Homo sapiens: one gene and its partners. The protein of the gene in region 2 purifies or fractionates together with the protein of the main gene of each other region. This does not show direct contact. Each region holds a gene or a part of one and is shown on either strand. Other genes may lie near its edges.

The links.
Region 1: the proteins of ALCAM (region 2) and TSPAN5 purify together in Homo sapiens (co-immunoprecipitation; one large-scale study listed by IntAct). This does not show direct contact.
Region 3: the proteins of ALCAM (region 2) and AAMDC purify together in Homo sapiens (co-immunoprecipitation; one large-scale study listed by IntAct). This does not show direct contact.
Region 4: the proteins of ALCAM (region 2) and ITGA1 purify together in Homo sapiens (affinity purification with western blotting, with the first as the bait; one study listed by BioGRID). This does not show direct contact.
Region 5: the proteins of ALCAM (region 2) and ITGA2 purify together in Homo sapiens (affinity purification with western blotting, with the first as the bait; one study listed by BioGRID). This does not show direct contact.
Region 6: the proteins of ALCAM (region 2) and ABCC1 purify together in Homo sapiens (affinity purification with mass spectrometry; one large-scale study listed by BioGRID and IntAct). This does not show direct contact.
Region 7: the proteins of ALCAM (region 2) and SLCO5A1 fractionate together in Homo sapiens (co-fractionation; one large-scale study listed by BioGRID). This does not show direct contact.

What each region holds. Positions count from the first base shown.
Region 1 is NC_000004.12:98,648,612-98,652,111, forward strand, and holds part of TSPAN5 (tetraspanin-5), read right to left. Parts: intron 1-3,500. UniProt on the Homo sapiens protein: Part of TspanC8 subgroup, composed of 6 members that interact with the transmembrane metalloprotease ADAM10.
Region 2 is NC_000003.12:105,530,909-105,534,408, forward strand, and holds part of ALCAM (CD166 antigen isoform 1 precursor), read left to right. Parts: intron 1-1,093; coding exon 1,094-1,158; intron 1,159-2,694; coding exon 2,695-2,782; intron 2,783-3,500. UniProt on the Homo sapiens protein: Cell adhesion molecule that mediates both heterotypic cell-cell contacts via its interaction with CD6, as well as homotypic cell-cell contacts. Promotes T-cell activation and proliferation via its interactions with CD6.
Region 3 is NC_000011.10:77,838,144-77,841,643, forward strand, and holds part of AAMDC (mth938 domain-containing protein), read left to right. Parts: intron 1-2,875; exon of another isoform or gene 2,876-3,042; coding exon of another isoform or gene 3,043-3,081; intron 3,082-3,500. UniProt on the Homo sapiens protein: May play a role in preadipocyte differentiation and adipogenesis.
Region 4 is NC_000005.10:52,860,916-52,864,415, reverse strand, and holds part of ITGA1 (integrin alpha-1 precursor), read right to left. Parts: intron 2,970-3,500; coding exon 2,857-2,969; intron 1-2,856. UniProt on the Homo sapiens protein: Integrin alpha-1/beta-1 is a receptor for laminin and collagen. It recognizes the proline-hydroxylated sequence G-F-P-G-E-R in collagen. Involved in anchorage-dependent, negative regulation of EGF-stimulated cell growth.
Region 5 is NC_000005.10:53,092,816-53,095,279, forward strand, and holds the end of ITGA2 (integrin alpha-2 precursor), read left to right. Parts: 3' UTR 1-1,964; downstream 1,965-2,464. UniProt on the Homo sapiens protein: Integrin alpha-2/beta-1 is a receptor for laminin, collagen, collagen C-propeptides, fibronectin and E-cadherin. It recognizes the proline-hydroxylated sequence G-F-P-G-E-R in collagen.
Region 6 is NC_000016.10:16,120,616-16,124,115, forward strand, and holds part of ABCC1 (multidrug resistance-associated protein 1), read left to right. Parts: intron 1-1,359; coding exon 1,360-1,559; intron 1,560-3,500.
Region 7 is NC_000008.11:69,668,763-69,670,978, forward strand, and holds part of SLCO5A1 (solute carrier organic anion transporter family member 5A1), read right to left. Parts: 3' UTR 1-2,216.

The DNA of each region.
Region 1 (3,500 bases), on a different chromosome or scaffold from region 2:
ACTGGCGTTTTTGGATTAATAAAAAATTCCATGAGGGATAAAATAGGCCACCTTTTTTTTCTCGTAAGCAAAGAACACTAGCTTCATGTGCTGGTGAAATGGTCACCGCTCTACACCACCCACGCCCAGCTCTCCCACACATCCCCTCCAGGGAGCAACGGGAAGGAGAGGCCACATCTTCCCAAGAAAAACAAGCTAAAGCTTCTCAAACTCAGCTGGGCATCACAATGACCTGCAGGAAGTTTTGATTTTTTTCTTAACAGAAATTCCAGGACCCCATCCTGGATGGACCTACTGAACCAGATCTCCCAGTGGGAAGACTGAAATTTCCTTACTAATCAGGCTGCCACACTACATGCATAAAGGGGTGAAATATCAACTAATCCTACAGAAGTGACCCCTAGTTAGTGAGAGGGACTTCCCATGCATGGAGAGATTCCAAGAGATAAAAACCCACACGAGGAGTAATTTTTTTAAAAATGTACTTTGGCCATCAAGATTCAAAGACATCTAAAGGCTAGAATACTGGTTCTTTTCTTTCTTAAGTGGTGGGACCCCTTTTTTCAAGCAAAATCTTTCTTAGTATCCCAAAATATCAAACTAATAACCAAGCTTTTCTGGAGGAAAGAGAGGTACTGCTCAGTCCACACCCCACCAGCACAGACCCACCCACCCACATACGCCTCAAGGAGGCCTAGGATTGCTGGTAGCAGGTTTGAAATCCAATGGGCCAGAATAAGACATTTAAATGGGAGAAATAAACAGAACTAAATCTAAATTCAAATAATTAACTGGAGGGTTAGGGCTTCTGATTAGCATATAGCTTAGGGGGATGGTTTAATAGAGTTCACTTGAAAAAGTGAAGGTTTTATTTCACTAAAAAGTCAATCCAAGCCAAAGTGTTCGTTGGCTGCCAGGGAAAGCAAGTGCAGTTTAGCCTGGGTTAATAACTAGTATTTGTATTTAGAGATTTACCATTTATGAAGCACGTTGATATGCATGATCTCACATAATACTGGATAACAACTTTGCAGAAAATTATTTTCCTGGTTTTTTTAGATGAGCAACTGAGGAACTAATCTGTGAAAGTAACTTACTCAAAGTCAATTCCAGACAGTAGCAGAGGCTTCTGCCACCAGGCACAGCACAGCCTAGGGACTGAAGGGAGAGTTCAAGAGCCTGCTGCTCTTCGGATGGTTAGAAAAGCCTGTGAACAACGTGTTTCATTCTGGTTGCTGCATTAATAGAGGTGTGTCCAAATGGGACCCTAGGCAGAGCACCGTGACCAGGGCAAAGAACAATCTGGAAACAGTATATGTAGACCTAACACTCTAAAACCGAACCCTGACATGCTCTTCAACATCTCAAAAGTTACTCCACATCTCTGTACTCCAATTTCTTCATCTGTCACAAAGATATAATATGTTTGGAAGACTCTTTGAGATGCTTACAAGAAAAACATCATTAGTGTAAACACATGGAGGAACTAGGAGCTTTTAAAGGTGGAAAACAGAATGTTTAGGAATGACATAATGGCTATTTTTAAATAATGAAGGACCATGGGGAAGGAAGATAAGTCTTATTTTACATCATTCAAGAGTAGCCGAGGCTCTTCGCCTTCTCCTTCCTGAAAATTCAAAGCCATTAGGTAGGTCCAATCTGGTAGGCTTCCTACGTTTACAAAAACGTAGGAAGAGGGATGCTGTGGAAGCCCAGAGCAGGGTATCTCAGGGAGAAAGGTATCCATATGGGGATGGGGGTGGTGGCACAGGATGCTAGAGCACTAACAGCTGAGGAGGGCAGCCCCAGGAGGAAAGGTGGTGGCAGCTGCAGAAGATTGGTTACATATGGGGAGATTTACCAAATAAGTAAACTGTTAAGAATAATGCGAACCAAGAATCTCACTGTCAAATAAAGCAGTTATAAAATATGGAGAGGAAAAACTAAACCCTGTGGTATCAGACAGGAATTTAAGGTATGACTGTAAACTCATGGTTTTAAAAGTACATAGATACAGAATTACAGATGTACATGTGTGTCTGTATATACACAGAGTAGCAACACCCTAATAGCAATGAGCACACCAAGCAACCAGATCTTGGCTTCTAAATTCCATTCTCCATTCAATAGCTCCTTGGAGAAATGTCTGATACAAAAGATGACACAGGTAAATCACAAAATGAGTTTGGAACATCTTATTCTGCCAGAGAGCAAGATGGTGCTCAAAGACTGATGGGAGTTAAAAGAGCACAGGAGCCAATGTGAAAAGACTGCACTGGCCAAACCTAGGGCCATTTTAAATAAAGTAATGACAGTAACATTAAACCACACTGAAAAAAGGAAGACACTAAGTTCTTACTGATATAAATAAATAACAGATTGAAAATTTGATGAGGAATAGGCTATTTACATGGTTTCAATGTAATTTGCCATAAAACATTTATAAATTACAAATGAGAAAAGAGTAACTATATGGTAGAGAAGCCTGGCAGACAACACCTTGATCAAGTGACCATCATCAGTAATGGGACAAACAGAAATCAATGCCACCCTGATAGGGTACAATGAGAACGCAGCACCATTTCTGTACTATTCCTACCAAAGATGCACAGCCTGAATCTAAGCTTGTGAAAATGGCACAAACACAAACTGAGGGACATTCTGCAAAATAACTGGCTTATAATTGTCAAAAGTATCAAGAGCATGATAGTGAAGGACTGAAAGAGACTAAAAACATGTAACTAAATACAAAGTGTGGTTCTGACCTGAATTCTTTTGCTTTAAAACATTATGGGAGCAACTGGGAAACTTGGATGAAATCTAAGGATTAAATGGTGTTAATGTATCATTGGTAATTTCCTGGCTTTCATGGTTGTACTGTGGTGATCTAGGAGAATAGTCCAGTTTACAGAAAATACATACTCAACTGTTTGTGTGATAGCCAACATGCTGGCAACTTTGTCTCAAACAGGATAAAAACAGGTTCTCTATACTACTTGCAATTTTCCTATTGGTTTAATGTTTCCAAATAAAAATTTTAAATGAACAGTAAATTAGGAGGATGGAAATGATGGGGAGACAGATAACATCTAGTTTGAACAGATGAAACTCTACAATTAAAGTGGTCCAAAAACAGATCCATGCTTAGAAAGGTAGGCACGATACAATGGAGAATGCTTCACTGACTAGGAAGTTAGAGGAGATGATTCCTACGTACTTTCTGATGATTTTGTAATTCTTTCCTTCAACATACTTTTTTTTTTTTTTTTTTTTTTTTTTGAGACAGGGTCTTGTTCTGTCACCCTGGAGTGCAGTTGCAGCCTCAACCTCCCAGGCTCAAGTGATCCTCCCACCTCAGCCTCCCAAGTGGCTGGGACTACAGGCACGCATCACCACACCCAGCTAATTTTTAATTTTTAATTTTTTTTTGTAGAGATAGGGTCTCACTATGTTACCCAGGCTGGTCTCAAACTCTTGGGCACAAGCCATCCTCCAGCCTC
Region 2 (3,500 bases):
TAATAACTGAATTCCAAATTGAGTAATAATTATACAAAAGCCAATTTAGTTTAGTTTGGTAATCAAAATTAAAAGTATTAGGTGGTAAACAATAAGACTATAAAAGAAAAAGTAGCTGATTGTTTAAATACATTTGCTTATAAGAAAATAGAATAATTTTGGTCCATGAGACTCACAAACATCAGTGACAATGAGGCAATATACTTTTTGTGTAAACTAATTGTTGGAGCTATTTAAAAAGCGCAAAATCCATCATTGATAGAAAATAGCAGCTAAGAATAAAATAACTTAAAATCAGTTTAAATAATAAATTGTTGCTGCAACTTTTAATCAATTGCTCCTGAAGTCTTTATTAAAATTTATGTTTCTTAGAACTACCTATATTTAAAATGTTTTTGTCCATCATCTCAGGTTCCACATTTGAAAGATTTTCTCACATTTACACTTTCATATTGTGACTTGGCTTAAGAGGTAAAGTTAGAGATATTTCAGAAATTTGGGTTTATAAATTCCTTAACTTGCTTTCTATTTCCCATGATTTTAGAACAGTGTTTCTCAAACTTTATGGTGACTGAGAATCCCCTAGAAACTTGTTTAAAATGTAGAGTTATGGGATTTTTTTTTTTCAGGAATTCTGATTCAGTAGGCCAAATAGGGCTCAGAAATCTGAATTTTAAACAAGTATCTTTGTGATTCTGGTTCATGTAAATTAATGTCTTCAGTTAATGAGCTGGAAGTTACTGATAAGTAAGAAGTGCTCATGGTAATCAATTAGAGACAATATATCCTATATAGGACATTAGCCCCTGTTTCACTATCAAATCCATATTCACTATTTATAAAGCATTCAGAAAGCATTATTTATATTTTATTCAAAGGAATTACAAGCACTGAAAATAATATTTAAGATAATAAATATTTGAAGGGGTAGACCTATAGATTCCCCAAATCCAGATTGTATAACGAAATCTATTTTTATTCTGTTGCTTATTCTTCTGTATTGAGTAAATGAATTGTTTTTGCTGTGAATCAAATCACAGAAGTCCCGTTTTTCTTACATATGTACTTAAAATCTTTCTCTGCTTAACTTTAGAGCAACCATCTAAACCTGAAATTGTAAGCAAAGCACTGTTTCTCGAAACAGAGCAGCTAAAAAAGGTAAGAATTGTTTTTGATTAATACCTTTATTTAGCCAGTGTTGTAAGTGCCTTCTTCTGACCTTACATTCCAAGACAAGTAAGAAAGGCTTTGCTCTTGTGGAGATGACAGTGTTGCAGCTACCAATCAGAAATTATCTACAAGGCACAGAGGGTACAACATGCTCACAGTCTCAGGTAACCATGAGGACATCAAGGAAGGTGGGGTCATTTCTGAAAAGAGGAGTCTTTCTCATTTGAATTAATGGATTGTTTAATAGAAGGATGAAGCCAGTTAGCATGATTCATGCCTGTAAGCCCAACAGTTTGGGAGGTTAAGGTGGGAGGATCACTTGAGCCCAGGAATGTACAGCATGGCAAGACCTTGTTTATAAAAAATATTTAAAAGTTAGCTGGGCATAGCGGTACATGCCTGTGGTCCCAGCTGCTTGGTAGGCTGATGCTTGGTAAGGAGGACTGCTTGAGCCTAGGAGGTCAAAGCTGCAGTGAGCCATGTTTGCACCATTGCATTCCATTGTGGACGACAGAGCCAGACCCTGTGTAGAAAAAATATATAGAGAGAATGATGAAAGATGAATAGATTTTCACCAAGCCAAAGGTAGAAATGGCTTTCCAACAATATGAAATAATAGGATGTGAAAGAGAACGGTGTGTTTGGGAAACAGCAAATTTTGGCATTGATGAAACTGGGTGCCAAGACAGAAAACAAGAAAGGATAGAAAGAGATGAATCTGGAGAGGCAAAGAAAAGTTGGATCATGACAAATCTTACATACTAAATAGGGAGTTTGGACTTTATTCTGTTGGCAAATTATGCTACTGAAAGATTGAAGTAAAGAGGTGAGATCAGATTCGAACAACACATTAGCAGATATGTGAAGGGAAGCTGTATTAAAGTGGGGGACAAAGTTGGAGTTCCATATTGAATAATAATGTAACTAAAATACCAAAGTTTTCCTTTGTTGGGAGATGGAAACCCAAGTCCTACATTCTTTGTGTCATATTAAATTTTACTGCATAAAATTATTTGATGAATACCAAATATTAAAGTTAAAATACATTTAAAGAAAGTGAGGGGAATTATAGAGCATGATAATGTATATCCTCTTGAAATATATGTAGTATGAAACTGGAGACACAGCCCCATTTTAACACCAAATTATTCTTCCGTATGAAGATCTATGATTCATGGTAATAGTCAGTGTTAATAGAGTAATGTTATTTGGTTAATGTTAAAAATGAATAGTGTCAAAATGAATTTGGCAATGCTTTCAAATGAATGTGATTTTATAATAGTGACACCATCTATTGCACATTTAAAAATCGTCAAAAGTATATTTTCAAATAAATTGTTAAAAAGGTCTTAAAAAGACATTGTTTTTATACCAGAGAGCATGTATTCAGTCTTTGGTCAGTGTTGGAAAATAAACGGGTCAAGAAACCCTTGGAATAACTCTGCATTGCCTGAGTTTCTGGAGTTTCCAAATTGACAGCCCCTGATTGAACCAAGGTAATAACATTGCCTTTTTATTTTGCAGTTGGGTGACTGCATTTCAGAAGACAGTTATCCAGATGGCAATATCACATGGTACAGGAATGGAAAAGTGCTACATCCCCTTGAAGGAGGTGGGTGTGAGGGCAGGAGGACAGGGAGTACATTCAGAGGACCTGTTCTGACTTTCTTTGTTCTAGGTATTCTTTAAACCAGTGGTCTCCAACCTTTTTGGCACCAGGAACTGGTTTCATGGAAGACAATTTTTCTTTGGATCAGGGTGGGGGGATGGTTTCAGGGTGATTCACAGGCATTAGGTTTATTGTGTACTTTATTTCTATTATTATTACATAGTGATATATAACAAAATAATTATGCAACTCACCATAATGTAGAATCAGTGAGAGCCCAGAGCTTGTTTTTCTGGAACTAGACAGTCCCATCTAGGGGTGATGGGACACAGTGACAGATCATCAGGCATCAGATTCTCATAACAAGTATGCAACCTAGATCCCTCATATGTGCAGTTCACAGCAGGATTTGCATTCCTGTAAGAACGTAATTCCACAACTGATCTGACAGGAGAAGGAGCTCAGTCAGTAATGTGAGCCATGGGGAGTGGCTGTAAATACAAAAGAAGCTTCTTGTGGTTGCCCACCGCTCACCTCCTGCTGTTTGCACCCATACCAGTCCTGGAGGTTGGAGACCCCCGCTTTAAACTATTCAGGATCTAAATATGTTGCCCTCTTTTGAGCTATGACTCTTATGCTCTGTTACTTTAAGTATGTACTAAATTAATACATGATTTTTTAAACATCATTTTCAGCCCTTGTACAGAAGAATCAAGAGCAG
Region 3 (3,500 bases), on a different chromosome or scaffold from region 2:
TTCTAATCGTCTTTAGTTGGAGATTAAATATGGTTAAGGAGACACATATAGGTGCCAAATTGACAAGATGTAGACTGTGACTGTTAGTTTTATGTGTCAACGTGGTAAGGTTATAGTACGGTTATTTAATCAAATACTAATCTAAGTGTTGCTGTGAACATACCTTGTAGATATGGTTAACATCTACAGTCAGTAGACTAGTGTATATATGAGATTATATCCTTGATACACTGAGTTGGCCTCTTCCAATCAGTTTAAAGTCCAAGCAAAACTGATGTTTCCTTGAAGAAGAAATACTGCCTCAGTACCATAACAACTCTTGCCCAAGGGTGAGCAGCTTACCAGTATTATCTATACATTTTGGACTTGCCAGCCTCCAAAATTTTGTGAGCCACTTTTTTGAAACAAGTCTGTCAATATTTATAGTCATCTGCTTCTGTTTCTCTGGATAACCCTGACTGATACAAGTACCTTTTTTTTTTTTTTTTTTTGAGACAGAGTCTCGCTCTTTTGCCCAGGCCAGACTGCAGTGGCATTATCTGGGCTCACTGTAAGCTCCGCCTCCCGGGTTCACGCCATTCTCCTGCCTCAGCCTCTCGAGTAGCTGAGACTACAGGCGCCCACCACTGCGCCCAGCTATTTTTTTGTATTTTTAGTAGAGACGGAGTTTCACCGTGTTAGCCAGGATGGTCTCAATCTCCTGACCTCGTGATCCGCCCACCTGGGCCTCCCAAAGTGCTGGGATTACAGGCGTGAGCCACCGCGCCCAGCAATACAAGTACCTTTTACTTACTGTGCTTACCAGTGCTAGAATTTCCATTTTATTCCTTTTTGAAGTGTTTCCTTATTGAGATTCTGTATTTGCTGAGTCATTGTTACCATATTTTTGTTTATTTCTTTGTGCTTTATTTCCCTTATACTACTTTCTTTGAAGTCTTTGCTAAATGTCAGACTTCTGAGAATACTCAATTACTCAGATACAGTTTCTTTTTTAATTAATTAATTAATTTTTGGAGACAGAGTCTTGCTCAGTCACCCAGGCTGGAGTATAGTGGCAAGATCATTGCTCACTGCAGCCTCAAACTCATGGGCTCAAGTGATCCTCCTGCCTCAGCCTCCTGAGTAGCTAGCACTATAGGTGCAAAGCCAACACACTTGGCTTTTTTTTGTTTGTTTGTTTTTGTAGAAACCAGGTCTCCCAATAGGAATGCTTTTACACTATTGGTGGAAATGTAAATTAGTTCAACCTTTGTGGAAGACAGTGGGGCAATTCCTCAAAGACCTAGAACTAGAAATGCCATTTGACCCACCAATCCCATTACTGGGTATATACCCAGAGGAATATAAATCATTCTGTTATAAAGAGAAATGCACACATATATTCATTGCAGCACTGTTTACAATAGCGAAGACATGGAATCAACCCATATGCCCATCAGTGATAGACTGGATAAAGAAAATATGGTACCTCTACACCATGGTATACTATGCAACCATAAAGGGGAACAAGATCATGTCCTTTGCAGGGACACAGATGGAGCTGGAAGCCATTATCCTCAGCAGACTAACACAGGAACAGAAAACTGAACAGCACATGTTCTCACTTATAAGTGGGTGCTGAACAATGAGAACACATGGACACAGGGAGGGGAACAACACACACTGGGGCTTGCTGGTGGGGGTCAGGGGGAGGGAGAGCATCAGGATAAATAGCTAATCCATGTGGGGCTTAATACCTAGGTGATGGGTTGATAGGTGCAGCAAACCACCATGGCACATGTGTACCTATGTAATGAACGTGCATGTCTTACACATGTATCCTGGAACGTAAAAAAGATGTTACATGCATATAACAATTTCCAAGATATTGGAAAGCAAAAAAGCAAAATAAAGACCAGGGTTGATAGCATGTTATCATTTCTGTAATATTAGAGTATGGAGAGGGGGACAGTAAACACACACACACACACACACACAACACCCAGGGATTTGAATGATTAATGCACAATATACCCTTGAAAAGAAACATGAAAACTAGGTATCTGGGGTTCATGGGAGCAAGGAAACTTTCACTTTCTACTGTTTAGTACCTTTTGAATTAAAAGTATCTTTAAGTGGCTCACGCCTGTAATCCCAGCACTTTGGGAGGCCAAGGCAGGTGGATCACCTGAGGTCAGGAGACCAAGACCAGCCTGGCCAACATAGTGAAACCCTGTCTCCACCAAAAATACAAAAATTAGCCGGGCATGGTAGCACATGCCTGTAATCCCAGCTACTTGGGAGGCTGAGGCAGGATAATCACTTGAACCCCGGAGGTGGAGGTTGCAGTGAGCCAAGATCGCACCACTGCACTCCAGCCTGGGCAACAGAGCCAGACTCCATCTCAAAAGAAAAAAAAGTGTTTAATGTATTTCTATTAGAAAAATAAAATTCTAATAAAAACATAAAAGAAACTGGGTATCCCTATGTTACCCAGGCTGGTCTTGAAATTCTGGCCTCAAGTGAAATTCCCACCTTGGCCTCCCAATGTGCTGGGATTACAGGCATGAGCCACCACACTCAGCCCCAGGTAACAGTTTCAGTTTACTGAGTGTGGGTCATAGTTTTTGTTTATTTGCATGCCTTGTAATTTTTTGTTGAAGAGTGACATTTTAGATAACATATTGTAGGACAGTGTGGATGGCATCCAGCCTGGCGAAACAACTTTTCCCCCTGAAAGTTGTTCTTCTGTTTATTTGTGTGTGGGGGTTTAGCCATTTGCCTATACTAAATGTCTTAATCCATTTTGTGCTTAATCCATGTTGTGCTCCTATAACTGAATACCTGAAACTGGGTAATTTAAAATTTATAATGAAAATAATTTTTTTTCTCACAGTTCTGGAGGCTGGGAAGTCCAAGACCAGTTGGCTCGCATCTGGTGAGAGCCTTCTTGCTGCATCATCCTATAGTGGAAGTCATCACATGGTGGAAGCACCAAGAGAGGGCCATACTTGTCCTTTTATAATGAACCTACTACTCCTGCAATAACAGCATAATCTATTCATGAGGGTGGAACCCTCATGGCCTAATCAGCTCTTAAAGGTCCCACCTCTTAATGTTGTTATAATGGCAGTTAAATTTAAACATGAGTTTGGAAGGGTGCAGACATTCAAACCATAGCACTAAACTAAATCTATGAATTCTCCCATGCAATATGTGTCTACTTTAGTCTCTGTTCTGTTAGAGTTTTTTCCTTGATTTTATTCTTAAACCCAGTTTCCCAAGATTCTCCTTGGTGTGTATATAGCTTAGTGTTCAGCCAAACATTAATTAAACATTTGGCTCAAACACCTTGAGGCAGTAAGACTTTCTCTCTCTACTGATGGAACACTGTGTGTACAGGGGAGTGCGTTCAAAGTCCAGCTGTTGTATGTCTTCACTGGCTTTTACATTCTGCAAGGCCCTCTTGAACCTTCTTGCTTATCCACTGTGTATGTGCTGAGGATCCATTAGCCCAGAAT
Region 4 (3,500 bases), on a different chromosome or scaffold from region 2:
TATAAATGACCAGTGATGAAACACGATTTTTGGCAAGAAAAGGGGAAATGGGTAGAAGATCAGAAAAGAAAACTCAAACACCAGTTTTTTGACCATGACTTCCAAAATCATGAGGACATCCTTTGGGTGACAAAGGAAACTAGAGGAATATTAGAGCAGTGTCCAGAAAGTTTTGATAAAGGAAACACAGTAAAGAGACTGCATTTGACATTCTGAAGGGAATGTTGGGTCCTGAAGCATGAAGCATGCCAGCCTAACAATATTGGCAAGAAGTTTCACTTTCTCACACTAAAAAAGAAAAAAAGACTGGACAGGAAAAACAAGAACTTCTAAATCTGCTTAGTAGAGTGGAATATTAGAAAGAGGCAAAATTCAGGTTGAGAAAGATTTGTCTCACTGTTTGTTCCAGAGGTTGTTTTCATGTTAAGACTGTATGTGGATTTAAAGTGGGGAATGGAAGCAGAGATTCTGGAATGGTCAGTTAGACTTCCTGATCTGCGCAATGGCCTTTGTCCAAGAGTTTAGTCTGGTTTGCTTTGAAAGCACCTAGAGCTGGGCGATTGTATGCATTGATCTTGTATAATCTGGATTAGAGTTTTATATACAAAGCTTGACCCAGAAAAAGCATTCCTGGGACAATTAGGGACTACAGTGGAAACTTCCCTACTGTACTTGATGTGGCTAAAATCTCTAGCCTAATTTTAAAACTATTCCAATTTCCAGTAAGGGAGGAGTAACTCCTAACAAAACAGCTCCTCTGCAAATCACAACTATAAATTCTAGGAAGAATTAAAAAAAATACATGAAACAATCACCTGAAGGCACTAGAAAGGTGGCAGAAAATGGAGGGGAATCCATACTTGGAAGAAGATACTGGCACTAAATGAGTTTTGTGCTTTTGTGTTTTGTTTTGTTTTTGTCCCCCACCCCTAACCCACCCCCAACCTAGGGAAGGCCCTGGTCAGTGGCTAAAACTCAAATAGAACTCCTAGTCTTACTGTACTGAATAAAAAGAGAACAGAGATTGAGGGCAATGACAGCAGCTGCAAAATGAGGAGGAGAGTAGTATATCTTAGAAAAAGAGCCACAAAACAACAGTTCTATAATATGCATATATATTTTATCCAAATAACTAGATGACTTGAATAGTAAATGCGCAGAGTATATTTCAAATAGCCCAGCTGAAATAAAACCTGAATAGAGATTTTAACTACTTGTCATTGCAAGAAAGTCAATGCTTGGAAATTGAGTTGAGCCAAGTAAATTTCCTGCTAATAAAAAAAGTTAAGACTATTCACAGGCATATAACAGAATCTAGAATCTCCACACCTGTAATTCAAAAATATAATCCAGGTTATGATCCAAAATTACAAGACAAGACAGGAAAATGTGATGCAACCTCAAGGAAAGGTAATAAATGGAAAGTGATGTTGAGATATTCCAGATGTTGGAATTATCAGGCAAGGATATTAAAGCAGCTATTATAAGTATGCTTATGCATGTAAAGAAAAAAAGTTCATAAAAACAAACAAATAGAAAATTCAAAAAAAGGAGAACTGAAAAATACAATATGTGAAATAAACTTGTGGGGCTATAAATAATTTCCATAGTATGTAATATTGTATAGAACATTGACAGGGTTCTAATTTCTAGATAATTTTAGTAGGAATTTTCCGGTCACATTCCTACTATTTATGTCAAATACATCTATTTCAATATAAATTTATCTTGTGTGATTCTATTTTTAAAATTAAATTTATCTATTACAATTCCTCTGATTCTATTTCCTCTTGAAAACCAGGCACTAAGTTAAATTTTGTGGAGGGAATGTGGTGGGCAGGTTTATTTGGAGAAGTTCTTTCACATTACCACTGAATTAGAAAGAATTCTGAAAAATGCAGAGAGTTAAAAGTTATAAAATTAGTACGGTATTCTAATTTATGTATGCTCCTTGATGACTTTCTAAAGCAAATTAAGGACAGAGGGAATCAAAATGGCATTCTATGTCAATCTGGAAGATAAATGATTATAGAAAAATGATTATAGATTATAAATGATTATATGAAAAATGATTATAGATTACTTCTTGAACTCAGCGCCTTAGACCGCTCGACCATTCTGACACACAGATTACTTCTAATATTTTCTTGAGTTGATTAAAATCTGTTTTTTTTCTTTTCTTTTTTTTTTTTTTTTTGAGATGGAGTTTTGCTCTTGTTCCTCAGGCTGGAGTGCAATGGCGTGATGTTGCCTTAACACAACCTCTGCCTCCCAGGTTCAAGCAGGTCTCCTGCCTCAGCCTCCTAAGTAGCTGGGATTACAGGCATGTACCACTATGCCCAGCTTAATTTTGTATTTTTAGTAGAGGCAGGGTTTCTCCATGTTGGTCAGGCTGGTCTCGAACTCCCGACCTCAGGTGATCCGCCTGCCTCGGCCTCCCAAAGTGCTGGGATTACAGGTGTGAGACACTGCGCCCAGCCCAAAATCTGTTTTCAGTGAGAATACTGGGCATAATTTAAGACCTGATTTTTTTTTTTTTTTTTTTTGAGACAGGGTCTCACTCTGTCACCCAGGCTGGAGTGCAGTGGCGCAATTACCATTCACTGCAGTCTCAAACTCCTGAGCTCAAGCGATCCTCACACTTCATCCTCTTGAGTAGCTGGGACTACAGTAGTGCACCACCCCATCCAGCTATTTTTGTATATTTTGTAGAGATGAGGTTTCGTCAGGTTGCCCAGGCTGGTCTCAAACTCCTGGGCTCAAACGATATGCCTGTCTTGACCTCTTAAAGTGTGGGGATTACAGGCGTGACTCACCGCACCTGGCCTAAAACCAGATTTTTTTAATTTTACATACCTGGTAGATCCAACTTTACACAAGGTAATGATTCACCTCTCCCAACTGGACACTTATAGACATCTCCAGTTCTGTTTTTGGGTTGGCCAACTAACGGAGAACCAATAAGCACCCTGGAAGTTAAATAAATCAGTAAACATTTTTGAACATTGAGAAACAGTTTATATGAGTTGTTTTATGACTGATTTTAAGATAATTGACAATAACACTCATAATCAGATAATAATCATGCTATTAGTAATTTAATGTTATGTAAACTAAGCAGAGAGCCTACCTCTTGCATATTGATGTGGATTAAAAAGTATATATACACACACACACATACATATACAATATACATATATAGCATATACATGTGTGTATATACATATATATGTGTGTATATACATGTATATGTGTGTGTATATGTAGGATAGATATTTCAGAGATTTTGCTTTATTATTTTGTTTATATTACTTTATCATATTTTTTATTGGGGTACTGAAATAATCAATAATTATTGGCTAAGTCTGCTACTGTATTAACTTATAAAACACATGTGGAAGTATAAGTGACTTTTTCCTATGATGAACTGCTAATTTTATAGAGAAGTCAGGAAATATAAACATTGGAACATCATAAGATTTAATATTAGCATGTGCTAG
Region 5 (2,464 bases), on a different chromosome or scaffold from region 2:
AAAAGACAATGTGGCCAGGCACGGTGGCTCACACCTGTAATCCCAACACTTTGGGAGGCTGAGGCCGGTGGATCACGAGGTCAGGAGTTTGAGACTAGCCTGGCCAACATGGTGAAACCCCATCTCTAATAATATAAAAATTAGCTGGGCGTAGTAGCAGGTGCCTGTAATCCCAGTTACTCGGGAAGCTGAGGCAGGAGAATCACTTGAACCCGGGAGGCAGAGGTTTCAGTGAGCCGAGATCGCGCCACTGCACTCCAGCCTGGGTGACAGGGCAAGACTCTGTCTCAAACAAACAAACAAAAAAAAAGTTAGTACTGTATATGTAAATACTAGCTTTTCAATGTGCTATACAAACAATTATAGCACATCCTTCCTTTTACTCTGTCTCACCTCCTTTAGGTGAGTACTTCCTTAAATAAGTGCTAAACATACATATACGGAACTTGAAAGCTTTGGTTAGCCTTGCCTTAGGTAATCAGCCTAGTTTACACTGTTTCCAGGGAGTAGTTGAATTACTATAAACCATTAGCCACTTGTCTCTGCACCATTTATCACACCAGGACAGGGTCTCTCAACCTGGGCGCTACTGTCATTTGGGGCCAGGTGATTCTTCCTTGCAGGGGCTGTCCTGTACCTTGTAGGACAGCAGCCCTGTCCTAGAAGGTATGTTTAGCAGCATTCCTGGCCTCTAGCTACCCGATGCCAGAGCATGCTCCCCCCGCAGTCATGACAATCAAAAAATGTCTCCAGACATTGTCAAATGCCTCCTGGGGGGCAGTATTTCTCAAGCACTTTTAAGCAAAGGTAAGTATTCATACAAGAAATTTAGGGGGAAAAAACATTGTTTAAATAAAAGCTATGTGTTCCTATTCAACAATATTTTTGCTTTAAAAGTAAGTAGAGGGCATAAAAGATGTCATATTCAAATTTCCATTTCATAAATGGTGTACAGACAAGGTCTATAGAATGTGGTAAAAACTTGACTGCAACACAAGGCTTATAAAATAGTAAGATAGTAAAATAGCTTATGAAGAAACTACAGAGATTTAAAATTGTGCATGACTCATTTCAGCAGCAAAATAAGAACTCCTAACTGAACAGAAATTTTTCTACCTAGCAATGTTATTCTTGTAAAATAGTTACCTATTAAAACTGTGAAGAGTAAAACTAAAGCCAATTTATTATAGTCACACAAGTGATTATACTAAAAATTATTATAAAGGTTATAATTTTATAATGTATTTACCTGTCCTGATATATAGCTATAACCCAATATATGAAAATCTCAAAAATTAAGACATCATCATACAGAAGGCAGGATTCCTTAAACTGAGATCCCTGATCCATCTTTAATATTTCAATTTGCACACATAAAACAATGCCCTTTTGTGTACATTCAGGCATACCCATTTTAATCAATTTGAAAGGTTAATTTAAACCTCTAGAGGTGAATGAGAAACATGGGGGAAAAGTATGAAATAGGTGAAAATCTTAACTATTTCTTTGAACTCTAAAGACTGAAACTGTAGCCATTATGTAAATAAAGTTTCATATGTACCTGTTTATTTTGGCAGATTAAGTCAAAATATGAATGTATATATTGCATAACTATGTTAGAATTGTATATATTTTAAAGAAATTGTCTTGGATATTTTCCTTTATACATAATAGATAAGTCTTTTTTCAAATGTGGTGTTTGATGTTTTTGATTAAATGTGTTTTGCCTCTTTCCACAAAAACTGTAAAAATAAATGCATGTTTGTACAAAAAGTTGCAGAATTCATTTGATTTATGAGAAACAAAAATTAAATTGTAGTCAACAGTTAGTAGTTTTTCTCATATCCAAGTATAACAAACAGAAAAGTTTCATTATTGTAACCCACTTTTTTCATACCACATTATTGAATATTGTTACAATTGTTTTGAAAATAAAGCCATTTTCTTTGGGCTTTTATAAGTTATATATTTTACTATTTTTATCTTATACATTCACTTTGCTCACATCCAAGACTCAATTTAAGAAGACTGAGGCTATAATTAATTTGCCATAAGTGTCCAGTCTATGTTTCTAGCAGTGACCACAAGGATCTTCTTTTGTAAGACTCTTAAACTGCCTTCGAAGTTTTGAGACAGTGTAAAGCATTGCTCCTCAAAGTGTGGCCCAGGGACAGATGGTGCTGCATCACCTGGAGCCTGTTAAAAAACACAGATCTCAGGGGCCACTCAAAACTATTCAAGTCAAATTGTAAGTTCTACAGCATCCCCAGGTGATTCATATTGCATTGAAGTTGAGAAGCACTGCTCTAAAGCTTACCTTTTGAAATAAAATGTGTGCTTGGAATAGAGAGGGAAAAAAAATCAGCCAAACTGCTGCAACATGCAAAAGCAGAGTCATCTGCACAGTTTAAAAAAAATCATAATAAGCAGGAAGGTTTAAATATTTTTAAAGAGTAAATATGCT
Region 6 (3,500 bases), on a different chromosome or scaffold from region 2:
GAAGGGCTTCCCGAGGAAGTGACATCTGTGCTCCCATCTGCTGGGTGATGAGGAATGGCCTGGACGGGATGGGCATGGTGGGTGGAGGCAGGCGGCCTGTGTGCAGGGAAGGAAGGGGAGAGTTACAGGATGAGATGAGTTGAGGGAAGAAGCATGGTTGGCAACTCTAACAGCGCTGGGAGGCCATCGGAGGGGGGTGACGAGATTGACCCTATCCTCATGGGCATCTCAGCTGGGCTGAGTGTGCTGGAACCGGCCATTGCATGGACACAGTCACTCCTGAGGGGATGTGATCAACAGGCGGAATTCTGTCACTTAATGATAACAATAGTCACCAGCTAACTGAATGCTTACTGTTAGGTCAAACTATATGAAACTGCTAATACTTATTTCTTATCTACAGAAACAGCTATTTCCTGTGGTTCAACCTAGTATTACCAGGCACTGTGCTTAGTGACATCATGCATATCTATATGATTTATGAAATAATGTGTCCACGCAAATACACATCACATGTAAGACTGTAACTCTTACATGTCACCCTCACAATGACCCCGTGAAGCAAGCTTTGTTTTGTTTCGTTTGTTTTCTTAATAATATTTTATTTTTGTAGAGATGGCATTTTGCCATGTGCCTGGGCTGGTCTCAGACTCCTGGCCTCAAGTGATCTCCCGCCTCTGCCTCCTGAAGTGCGGGTATTACAAGCATGAGCCACCCCACCTGGCCGAGCAAGCCTTGTTGTTCCCATTTTACAGATAAGGAAACTGAGGCTTAGAGAAGTAAAGTGTTAGTCGTGTTTATATTGCCAGTCAGTAGTTGAGTCAGGATTTGAACTGAGGTCTCGTTGACCTCAAAGCCTATGCTGAAAACCACACTGCTGGTTCCAGAAAACCCTAGAGGTGAAAGGCTTCAGAGAGGCAGTACAGGGTAGAGGTTAGCACTTTGCAGCCCAGATGGCCTGGGTTTGAATCCCAGTTCTGCCCCTTGCTAGCCATGTGACCTTGGGGAGGAGATTAACTAGCTTCTTTGTGCCTTAGTCTACCCATCACATATAGGAATGAGCACCTCAGGTTTTTTGTGAGGATTGAATGAACTGATGTTTGTAAAACTGCTTAGAACGATGCCTGGGGCTGTGGGCTTTGTATAAGCGTGAGCTATTATTGTCACTGTCCTTGTCATTGGTGGTGCTATTCCTGTGGTTCACCAGGTGAGTGGGCACCCCTGTGAGGGCAGCCCGGCTCTAACATTTTGCCTCCTGGAGGTATCGGTTACGTCTAGATGTTCTCCAGCACAGCCCTGCCCTGGGAGGATGGCAGGAGGGAACCTTCATCAACTCCCCGCGTCTGTTCTCTACCCCAGAGGTTCTACGTGGCTTCCTCCCGGCAGCTGAAGCGCCTCGAGTCGGTCAGCCGCTCCCCGGTCTATTCCCATTTCAACGAGACCTTGCTGGGGGTCAGCGTCATTCGAGCCTTCGAGGAGCAGGAGCGCTTCATCCACCAGAGTGACCTGAAGGTGGACGAGAACCAGAAGGCCTATTACCCCAGCATCGTGGCCAACAGGTGGGCATGGTGGGCCTGCAGGAGCGGGTGGAGGAGGCCGCCTTAGCACCTTGTCTCTTTGCCTCGATCTTTTCCTCGCACCTTGAGCTGGGTATAAAGCCAAACCCCGGCCTTGCAGAAAGGATGGAGAGGCTTGATGAGCGCGGAGGACAGATGAATCATTAAGAGCAGACAGCGGCACTGTAGACATGCAGTGCCCGCGGCATTTAAGTGCAGGGACACAGCTCTTCTGGAGTCAGAAAGCCCTGCAAGTGCTTCCCGTTAACTGTCATCCTAGTGATGCAAGACTGCCAGCGACCGACTCTGCTATTGAGTATCTTCATACCGCTGTTCCCGTCTGGGGGTGATCATGCACCCCTGGGTGATGTGTGTCAGAAGCAATTTACTAATACTAAGCTAAACCATATGAGATTGTCATCTTGTGGGCCAGATGTCATGGCTCACGCCTGTAATCCCAGTACTTTGGGAGGCTGAGGCAGGAGGATCCATTAGATTCCAGGCCAGCCTGGGCAACATAGCAAGACCCCCATCTCTCTTAAAAAAAAAAAAAAAAAAAAAAAGTAGCCCATCATGGTGGTGTGTGCCTGTAGTCCTAGCTTCTCGAGAGGCTGAGGCTGGAGGATCGTTTCAGCCCAGGAGTTCAAAGTTGCATTGAGCTATGATTACACCACTGCACTCCAGCCTGGGTGACAGAGTGAGACCCTGTCTCTGGAAAAACAAAAAAAGGAGATGGGGGTGGGAGATTGACATCTTGTGGATCACAGATAATAGCATCAATCCAAAAGAGGCAGAAGTTTGCTAATTATTTGCTGAATTTAGAGAAGTGTCCCTCTCACCCATTTGCATCCTTATAGACTTTTCTGAAAAAGTGACAGCACCCCAGAGGTGTCCCATAACCATTAGCCCGTCTTACACACTCTAATCCCATAGCGTAAGTCTGGGTGGGCTAACCCTGAATGATTACAGACCTTGACTTCCCTTCAGAATTTTTAGGGAGTTTGTCACAATCTGGCTGTGTCTGTCGGAGTAGTGAGGATCAGTCACTTGGTTCATAAGGGCTGCAATGGAGAAAAGATCAACACCCCATCTTCCTAGAATGCTTTATATTTTAGAACATTAAAATAATAGTTCTAGTGCTATATGATATCATACGAAGCCTAGCTTTAAACAAATAAGATGGCCAGGCGCGGTGGCTCACATCTGTAATCCCAGCACTTTGGGATGCCAAAGTGGGTGGATCACCTGAGGTCAGGAGTTCAAGACCAGCCTGGTCAACATGGCAAAATCCCATCTATATTAAAAATACAAAAAAATTAGCCGGGCATGATGGTGGGTGCCTGTACTTGGGAGGCTGAGGCAGGAGAATCACTTGAACCCAAGAGGCAGAGGTTGCAGTGAGCCAAGACCGCACCATTGCACTCCAGCCTGGGCAACGAGAGCGAAACTCTATCTGAAGAAATAATAGAAGAGAAGAGAAGAATAAAATAAAAAGTAAAATAAAATAGTTCTGATGGTACATGATACCATACTAAACCTAGCTTTAAACAAATAAGATGACCAGGCACATTGGTTGACACCTGTAATCTCAGCACTTTGGGTGGCCAAGGCAGGCGGGTCACTTGAGCCCAGCAGTTCGAGACCAGCCTGGGCACTCTAGGGAGACCCTGTCTCTAAAAACAAAACAAAAAACCAAAAATTTGCCAGGTGTGGTGGCATGGGCCTGTAGTCGCAGCTACTCAGGCTGAGGCAGGAGGATCACTGGAACTTGGAAGGTTGAGGCGGCAGTGAGCTGTGATCATGTCATCCACACTCCAGCCTGGATGGCAGAGTAAGACCCCATCTCAAAAAAACAAAATGACAGAAAACATGATTTCTGTTTCTATTTTAAAGGGTAAAATAGTATATTTTAACACTTTGAAATGAAGAGTCTGGGCTTGGGAA
Region 7 (2,216 bases), on a different chromosome or scaffold from region 2:
CACCATGACATCCATGAGGCCTTACTCCATGTAACTCCCCCTTCTCTGAAGGCTGACATTTCCAAGTGCATGCCACTAAAGGTAACAATGTCACAGCGACTAAAGGGAACAATCGGGATCAGTGGTTTGATATGTATTTTATGTGTGTTCACTTAAAACCCTTATTAGGAATCTTAAAACTCATATTCATCAAAAAACTAATAGAGATGTTAATATTCTGAAAGAGGAAAATAAAAAAAAATACACTTGAAATCCCTAAAGCTCAGATTCAACAAATCTGAACTACCTTTCTTCATAATGTTTCATTTCAGAAACTCTGCCGAGACCCGATGTTAACACGAAGACTAGATTTGTTCTGTATTAAATATGAACTATAAATAAATATTTGAGGTATGTTATGACAAATAACTTTAATATAACACTTAGCTAAATAAATGTAAATTTACCTTGAAAATCTAGTTAAACATTAAATCTTGATATTTCCTACAGATGTTTCCTACAGTTTTTTTTATTTACACAAAAAAACCTCTCTACTCTTCATAAACGGTAATATATCAAAAAATTGAAATGCTTTAATCTCACGATTTTATAGTCACCTTGCCTTTGTTAACCAAAAGCTATTGTATACATTGCGTAGTGTAAAAAATGAATAATGGAGTGAGAGAAATCTATGTCTGAATCCTGACTTTACCATTCTGTATGATCCTAAATGAGTTATTTTACTTCTCTGAGTCTTGGTTTCATATGTTTTTTAAAAAAATAATAAAATCAGCCGGGCATGGTGGCTCATGCCTGTAATCCCAGCACTTTGAGAGGCCAAGGCAGGTGGATCACTTGAGGTCAGGAGTTCAAGACCAGCCTGGCCAACATGGTGAAACCCTCTCTCTACTAAAAATAGAAAAAAAATAGCTGGGTGTGGTGGCACACACCTTAATCCCAGTTCCTCAGGAGACTGAAACAGGAGAATCACTTGAACCCAGGAAGCGGAGGTTGCAGTGAGCTGAGATTAAGCCACTGCACTCCAGCCTGGGTGACAGAGCAAGACTCTGTCTCAAAAAAAAAAAAAGAATCAAATCTTTGCAAGGTAATTAAGAGGATCAAAATGAATGATGATGTATATTAAGTGCTTGTCAAAATGCTCTACAAATCGTCAACACTCAACAAATGCTAATTTTTTTCCTCTCTGTTCCTCCTTTCTCTCCATCCCCAACACCTTGACTCTGAATTACTTTTGAATATTTTCAAGAATTAAATCCACCTATAAAGAATAAGGACTTAATGCTAATGAAAATAACCAAAGAATGCGCTCCAACCACCCATCTTACCTCCTGGGAGTTTCTAAATTAATAGGATGAACTCAAGGATATTGTATTTGCATATTAAAGCTAAATAATATATGAATTTACAGTTTATAAAGGACAAGATGACCTTTTCCAAAACAAGTAATTTGAAGCCTAAGCTCATGGAGAGTCTTCATTAAAACTTCTAATAGGAGCTGTGACTATAAAGTAATGGGATCAATTTATTAAGAAACATATAAGACCCTATATATACAATTAAATGGTATCATCTACAAAACAGTCACTTCAGTTGGCTATGTAATATTCCAGTGATGCTACCATAGCCCCAAGTATTTTGTGAACCACTCTTAATTGGTACATATTCCAAAGCTTTATTTTCTCATGATTTTTACTACTTAGTCTACATTCACCAACAACACATTAATGAAATACCTGCTATTTATAAGGAGCAGATACTTGAGGAAGTACAATATTAACACTGTGGTGCACATTTCAGGCCCATTTCTTTGAGTTCTGGCCCAATCATCCCAAAGGATTTTATGGAGTGGCAGATGGTAATCAGGTAATATGACACCTGAAGATACCTGGCACCTGATCAGTGATCGCCAAACTGGATGACTGTTCATGGCAGCAAAGGGAGTAAGGGGGCTCTCTAACTACTCCGTGCTGAGTCCAGCAATCTTAGCTACCAGAAAAAGTGCCAATCCCACCAAAATTCTCTCAATGCAGTATCTTAATGATCAGAAGAAAATTAAGAAAACACCACACCTCTCCAATCTACATATCTTTAACTCCCACACCAAAGGAAAATTTCTCCTTTAAAGGATCAGAGCTCTCCCATAGAGGGTAAAGGGGAACCCTGAGGCCCCAAAGGAGACACTAGTTCAATCAGCAAGGTTTTCTTAATCAGCAAGA